Homo sapiens: one gene and its partner. The protein of the gene in region 1 purifies or fractionates together with the protein of each later gene. This does not show direct contact. Each region holds a gene or a part of one and is shown on either strand. Other genes may lie near its edges.

Region 1 (3,818 bases):
TATCCTCATTTTATCGCTGCAGAAACAGGGTGGAGAGTTTAGGAGGTTTCCAAGGCCACTCAGGGGTTTGAACCCGGGAACCCTGGATCCGGAGTCCACAGCCAGGAGCTTTGCCTTCTGCTGCCTGCACGTGGCACAGCCGGGGCCCAAATCCTGGTGCCACCAATTGCACAGTGAAGGCTCTCAGAGCCCCCCAAGTGGCGCTGGCAGAGCGGGCAGCCCCGTGCCTGAGCAACGCCCTCCCTTTCCCCCCTTACCCTGTCCATGGGCCCCACTCCTGCAGGCTTCTCACCCCAGCCCTCTGCTTTTTTCCAGCATGCACGGCCCCACAGGGCACTGCCCCCACCCCCGGGTCCTGCCCAACCTGGTGGCCGTGTGCCTGGCTGCCATCTACTCCTGCTATGAAGAGTTCATCAACAGGTCAGTTGCTGAACCACCGCCACCCAGAGGGCTTGGGAGGGGCAAACTGCCACCCCCATCATGGGCAAAGTCACCAAGAACTGACCAGGCCAGAGAGGTGGAGTGGCTGTTTACTGGGCAGACCTCATGGTGTGTTTGCCAGTTCCCCTGGGCACATTGATTCATGGGCCCAGAAGCCAGGGATGCTGCTGAAAAAGCAAGCACTGAATCAGCACCGCAACTGCAAGGCTGTTAGAGCTGCTTGGCTTTAGGGACAGATGTTTTATGCTGAAGATTTCTCACCACTGGAGAGGTATGACACACTGGTGTGTGTGTGTGAATGTGTGCACATGGGTATGCAAATGCATGTGTGCACTGTACACATACATGTGACTGTGTGTACGTGTGTGCACATGGAGGTGTGAATATGTGCCCGTGTGTTGGGGACAAGGGTTGACAGTAAGGTTTATCCTGTCTAGTCTTGGCTTTGAGAACACAGGCTTTTGCCCATGATTTGCATGGTTTTATTTTATTTTTTTGAGACAGGGTCTCACCCTGTCACTTAGGTTGTGCGGCAATACAGTGGTGCAGTCATAGCTCACTGCAGCCTCAAACTCCTGGGCTCAAGCCGTCCTCCCACCTCAGCCTCCCGAGTAGCTAGGACCACAGGCACATGCCACCACTCATGGCTAATATTTAAAATTTTTTTGTAAAGACAGGATCTTGCTGTGTTACCCAGGCTAGTCTCAAACTCCTGGGCTTAAGCAGTCTTCCCATTTGGACCTCCCAGAATGCTGAGGTTACAGGCATGAGCCATTGCATCTGTTTTTCTTGAGCGCCTGCTGTGTGCTTGACACAATTTCAGTGCTGGAGAGCGAGCAAGATCACAAATTCCCTGCTCTCTTGGGGCTTCCATTCTACCAGGAAGAGATCATGTACAAGTAAATGTGCAAGATCATGTCAGAGGGTAAGAAAAACCGTGAGAGCAATAAAACCGAGTGGTGGGGTAGCAAGTGACCGGAAGAGGTGGCAGGGCAGGGCCACGACCTGGCTTTGGAGCCTCCAAAAGGAAACTCCAAGACCAGGATTTGGGTGGAAGTGGCTTCCTAGGAAGGTGGTCCCAGGAAACACTGGGGGACAGGGAAGGGAGGACATCAGTGAAGTATGAATTAATAAGCAGGTGAGGCTGGGCGCAGTAGCTCACACCTGTAATCCCAGCAGTTTGGAAGGCCAAGGCGGGCAGATCACTTGAGGTTAGGAGTTGGAGACCAGCCTGGCCAACATAGTGAAACCCCGTCTCTACTAAAAAAATATAAAAATTAGCCGGGCATGGTGGTACATGACTGTACTCAGCTACTCAGGAGGCTGAGGCGGGAGAATAGCTTGAACCTGGGAGGCAGAGGTTGCAGTGAGCCAAGATCACACCACTGCACTCCAGCCTGTGCAACAGAGTGAGACTCCTTCTCAAAAATAAATAAATAAATAAATAAGAAAGCAAGCAAGCAGGTGACCACTTCAGGCAGCTGGCATGCACTCCCACTGTGCCCCAGGAGGCCGTGCGTAACACACTGAGAGTTGCTCTGCTGAGAGTTGCTCCGCCGAGGCTGGCGGTGCTGGGATAGTCACTCACCAGCTCCCATCCCTCGCTGGCTGAGAACTGCTCCCGGGATGCAGACTAATGCAGATGCCATTAGTTTATGGGGAACTTTCTGCAGTGACCTCTGGTGTCATTGGAGAGGATGTGACATGCAGAACACAGTGGTCTCTGCTGCAGCCACCCAGTTGTTCAGGTGGTACACTACACAACTCCAAGGAGACCAACATGAGTCCAGACCCCACCAGAGCTGGGGATACAGCAGGAGGGTATTTCAGTCTTTTCTCAAAATGAAGGCAGTAGAGCATTCTGAGTCGCTGAAAACCTGTACAGGGGGGATTTCTCAAACAAATGCCGTACTGCTGAGTTCTTCGGAGGGGCAGGAAAAGGCATTTGATAAATCAGGGGCTGTTTTCTTGCAGCAGGGCATGAGAGAGGGTGACTCTTTTAATGCCCTCAGCCTCAGGTCCCGATGTTCAAAGGGGATCATGTCCCACCTTGAATCACTTCCCTGATCAGAAGGAAGTGCAGGGACTCCAGGGGCCAGAATGTGGAGATGGGAGGCTGCTCATTCCCAAGGGCATGTTCTGGAGCTGACAGCACGGTGAGGCAAAAAGAGGAGAAAACGGAAGCCAGAGGGTAGTATCAGGCCTGCCCTTTTGTATTTTTAGTAGAAATGGGGTTTCACCATGTTAGCCAGGATGGTCTTGATCTCCTGACCTCGTGATCCACCCACCTTGGCCTCCCAAAGTGCTGGGATTACAGGCGTGAGCCACCGCGCCTGGCTTACAGTATTTAAGTTATACCCAGAGTGTGCAGGAGCCAGCTCACACGTTACATTTGGGAACACATCCCTTCCCAGTTCTGTAATGATATCATATTGATAGCTTGAAGTAGCTGTGGTGAGTATTTACACCAAAGAAATTGGTAAACACTGCAGATCAGGGCTTCTTTTTTTTTTGAGACAGCTTAGCTGTTGTCGCCCAGGCTGGAGTGCAGTGGCACAATCTTGGCTCACTACAGCCTCCACCTCCTGGGTTCAAGCGATTCTCCTGCCTCAGCTTCCTGAGTAGCTGAGATTATAGGTGTGGGCCACCACACCTGGCTAATCTTTGTATTTTTAGTAGAGATGGGGTTTTACTTTGTTGGCCAGGCTGGTCTCGAACTCCTGACCTCAGGTGATCTGCCCGCCTCGGCTTCCCAAAGTACTGGGATTACAGGCGTGAGCCACCACATCCAGCCAGATCAGGGCTTCTTTCTTTGGAGAGTTGGTTGTTAGACATTTACCAGCGTACTTTGGGTTATATGTCAATTTAAAAAAAGAAAGAAAGAAAGAAAGAAAGAAAAGGGTGCCCAGGACCCTCCCAGTGCCATTCTGATTTAATTAGGATGGCCCTGGCATCTGTTTTTGGAAGGAGCGTTGGGGAGGTGATATTTACGTTAATACCTCCTGGCTGTTCTCCAGGCAAGAAGCAGGAAGAGGGTGACCCAGGGAGAGAACCACATGGAAAGGCCTGGCAGTGATGGGTGAAGGTGCCATTCGTCACAGTGTTTTTGTTTTTGGTTTTTGGGTTTTTTTGGAAACAGTCTCACTCTGTCACCCAAGCTGGAGTGCGGTGGCGCAATCTCTGCTCACTGCAACCTCTGCCTCCTGTCTTCAAGCAATTCTCATGCCTCAGCCACCCAAGTAGCTGGGATTACAGGTGTGCACTGCCACACCTGGCTAATTTTTTTTTTTTTTTTTTTTGTATTTTTAGTAGAGATGGGGTTTCGCCATGTTGGCCAGGCTGGTCTCAAACTCCTGGCCTCAAGTGAAATGCCCCCC
Region 2 (3,818 bases), on another chromosome or scaffold:
TCTGTCGCCCAGGCTGGAGTGCAGTGGCACAATCTTGGCTCACTGCAACCTCCGCCTCCTGGGTTCAAGTAATTCTCCTGCCTCAGCCTCCCAAGTAGCTGGGACTACAGGTGCATGCCACCACGCCCAGCTAATTTTTTGTATTGTTTTTAGTGGAGACGGGGTTTCACCTTAGCCAGGGTGGTCTTGATCTCCTGACCTCGTGATCTGCCTGCCTCAGCCTCCCAAAGTGCTGGGATTACAGGCATGAGCCACCACACCCAGCCCTTTTCATTCTTCTAATAGTGATTTGGAAGAGTCAAATTTTTTAATTTTGAGGAAGTCTAATTTATCAAGTTTTTCTTTCATCATTTGTGTTTTTTGTGTGTGTTCTGTCTGAGATATCTTTGCCAAACCCAAGATCGCTAAGGTTTTCTTTTATGTTTTGTACTAGAAGTTTATAAAGTTTTAGCTGTTATGTTTAGGTCTATGATTCTTTTTGAGTTAATTTGTATATATTGTGTGACATATGGATCCAGGTTTATTTACTTGTGGATATCCAGTTGTTCCAGTGCCATTAGTTGAAAAGACTTTGTTTCTTTTCTTTTTTCTTTTTTTTGAGACAGAGTCTTGCACTGTTGCCTGGGCTGGAGTGCAATGGTGTGATCTTGGCACACTGCAACCTCTGCCTCCTGGGGTCACGCGATTCTCCTGCCTCAGCCTCCCAAGTAGCTGGCATTGCAGGTGCACACCACCACACCTGGCTAATTTTTTGTATTTTTAGTAGAGACAAGGTTTCACTATGTTGGCCAGACTGGTCCCGAACTCCTGACCTCATGATCCGTCTGCTTCAGCCTCCCAAAGTCCTGGGATTACAGGCATGAGCCACCACACTCGGCTGAAAAGACTTTCTTTTTCTACTGAATTGCCAGTATACTTTTATCCAAAATCAGTTAATTGTTTATGTGAAGGTCTCTTTCTGGATCATGTATTCTGTTCTGTTGGTCTATGTTTTTAGCTATTTGATACCAGCCCCCAGTCTTAATTACTGTCTACATAATACGTGTTGAAGTCAGGTAGTGTCAGTCCTCCAGTTTTCTTGTTTTTTCGAAGTTATTTGACTATTCTAAGTCCTTCACATTTCCATAAGAATTTTAAAATCATTTTTTAGAGGGTAAAAAGGTTCTGAGACCAAAGTGTTTGAGACCTCTGCCTTATTTATGACCATGGGTAAGTTCTCTTAGCTCGGTGTGCCTCTTTTTTTCTCATTTTAAAATGGGAAGAGGAGAGCACTTACCTCGATAAGGTTGTTGTAAAGATCATGGAAAGTGTGTAAAATAATACTTGATCCATTTTAGACACTCAATAAATGTTAACAGTTATTGTGACTATTTTCACATAAGATGATGAGAAGAATCTCAGATAATATTATCAGAACCTAATTTGTCTCATTCTCCGTATCTTGGCTCAATTCCTAGTCATTGGTTCTTTTCTCAGTTGTCTCTCCTGTCATTGTTTCAAGTTGGTTGCTAGCTGCTCCAGAGCCAAATTAATTAGGAAAGAGAGTACTGTTTCTTTAGTATCTCAATCAGAAGTTCCACTTTTGAGTTCTGTTGGGCTTAATTGACTTGATTTGTGTTATGTGTCCATCCCGGTTCTAGCCATATAGGTAAGGTAGAGGTATCTGACTGGTTTGGGCCATGTTTGGTCCACCTCTGCAGCTGGAGAATGTAGGTCCACCTCTACAACTGGAGAAAGCATACTTGTGTGTATGCTTGAGAAAACCAGGGGTAGAGTGGTGGGGAGGGAACATTAGGACTAGAACTCATAAGTGTCCACCACACACACATACATATATATGATGACAAGAATTGATGGCAGATTCCTAGAGGGAAAATCATGACTCTTTATTTTATTGCAGTTAATAATGGGACTTGGTACCCAGGGGGCAGAGAAGAAGAGTGCAGCATCTATTGCCTGTTTCTTGGCAGCCAATGGTGCTGACCTGAGCATTCGAAATAAGAAGGGTCAATCGCCACTTGATCTCTGTCCTGATCCGAATCTCTGCAAAGCACTGGCAAAGTGTCATAAGGAAAAAGTCAGGTTTGTATTATTTATTATCATAAAACTTAATATTCTGTACAGAAAATATCATGTGGTTTCGTAATGGAGGACGTGGCTACTTGAAAATGTCTTCATCTTTGCTCTTCCTGTATATTTGTGTTGACCCTTTCTTTCCTGAAATTTTTCTTCCTTGAAAATTTTTCTGCAGGCAGCATGTCTCTTATTTTATGCCATATTCCCCACATTATTGAGTGCAATGCTCTATACTTAATAAGTTCTGAGAAACTTTTCTAAACTAGTCTGATCTTCTAGTACTCCCATGTGTTAGAGGGATTTATGAGAAAAAGTCTTCTAGTAAAATTGCTGTTGTTAATGTTACATGTATTTTAAATTGTATTTATTTTTTATTGTATTATTATTATTTTTTAAAAATACGTCTTGCTGTGTTGCCCAGGTTGGGCTTAAACTCCTGGGCTCAAGCAATCCTCTTGCTTCATCCTCAGTAGCTGGGACTGTATGCATGTGCCACTGTGCCTGGCTCTATATTTAAAATTTAAATAGAATCTTCCTAAGACAGGCAACTTATACTCCATGAACAGGGTATATCTCACACAAACTGTAGCACCCTGCTCAGTGCCTGACAGGTGCACTCAGTATCAGTGGAGAATGAACAAATGAATGCACCAAGTCCTGGTGGAGTTTTCTCTAAAGATGATCATTTCACATTTGTCTCTTTTTCTGAAAGATATGTCAGTGATTTTAATTATTATTTATGACATAACTAATTTCCTTATGAGATTTTATAGATGTACAAAAAGGTACACATCTCATTGCTTTTTTAAATCTGAACAGTGCTGTGCAACTGTTGTTGCCCTTTGTACCTGGTTCTTGTCACTGAAATTTCAGTAGCTGTTCCTTAACCTTAGTGTTCCTTGCCTCTCTCATAATTTATGTGTAGTGATGAAATGTCATCTCTTTGGAATCTGTGCATAGAACTGTGTTATAGAGGAAATTAATATAGTGAGGTATATACATTTCTTTAAGTGTATTGTTAAGGAACATGAAATTCTATTACAAAAAGAGAATGCATCGGCCGGGCGTGGTGGCTCACACCTGTAATCTGAGCACTTTGGGAGGCCGAGGCAGGTGGATTGAGGTCAGGAGTTCAAGACCAGCCTGACTAACATGGTGAGACCCTGTCTCTACTAAAAATACAAAAACTAGCTGGGCGCATGCCTATAATCCCAGCTACTTGGGAGGCTGAGGCAGGAGAATTGCTTGAACCGGGAGGCGGAGGTTGCAGCAGTGAGCCGAGATCACACCACTGTACTCCAGCCTGGGCAACAAGAGCAAAATTCTGTCTCCAAAAAAAAAAATCTATAAATATAAAGATATAAGGCACTATAATTATTGCAGTAATAACTTTTAAACAATGGAGTCTAAGGTGGACCCTCTGTGTACGTGTTGTGTACGTGTTCGTGAGTTTCTGAAGATTGTGGTAGAAACAGGGCATCCCTTTTCTGTAGCTGTAGGTGGTCATATGTATTTCTGTTCCTTGTATCTGTGTTTACGGATGCAGTCTATCTTTCTGTAATATAATTTTATGTTCCTTAAGGATACACTTAAAAATGTCAAAACAGCAGCTGAAGTGTTAAATTTTCCAAAGTGCCCTATCTGTTGTGGACTCTGATGATGCTTTGTTCCGTCTTTAGTAAGGCAACTAACATGGGGGCTAGTGAGGATTTTTGTTTTATTCCTATGCCTTCCTCTGCTGG

The links.
Region 2: the proteins of CMIP (region 1) and MIB1 purify together in Homo sapiens (affinity purification with western blotting; one study listed by BioGRID). This does not show direct contact.

The regions. Positions count from the first base shown.
Region 1 is NC_000016.10:81,671,651-81,675,468, forward strand, and holds part of CMIP (C-Maf-inducing protein), read left to right. Parts: intron 1-315; coding exon 316-420; intron 421-3,818. UniProt on the Homo sapiens protein: Plays a role in T-cell signaling pathway. Isoform 2 may play a role in T-helper 2 (Th2) signaling pathway and seems to represent the first proximal signaling protein that links T-cell receptor-mediated signal to the activation of c-Maf Th2 specific factor.
Region 2 is NC_000018.10:21,845,044-21,848,861, forward strand, and holds part of MIB1 (E3 ubiquitin-protein ligase MIB1), read left to right. Parts: intron 1-1,900; coding exon 1,901-2,082; intron 2,083-3,818. UniProt on the Homo sapiens protein: E3 ubiquitin-protein ligase that mediates ubiquitination of Delta receptors, which act as ligands of Notch proteins.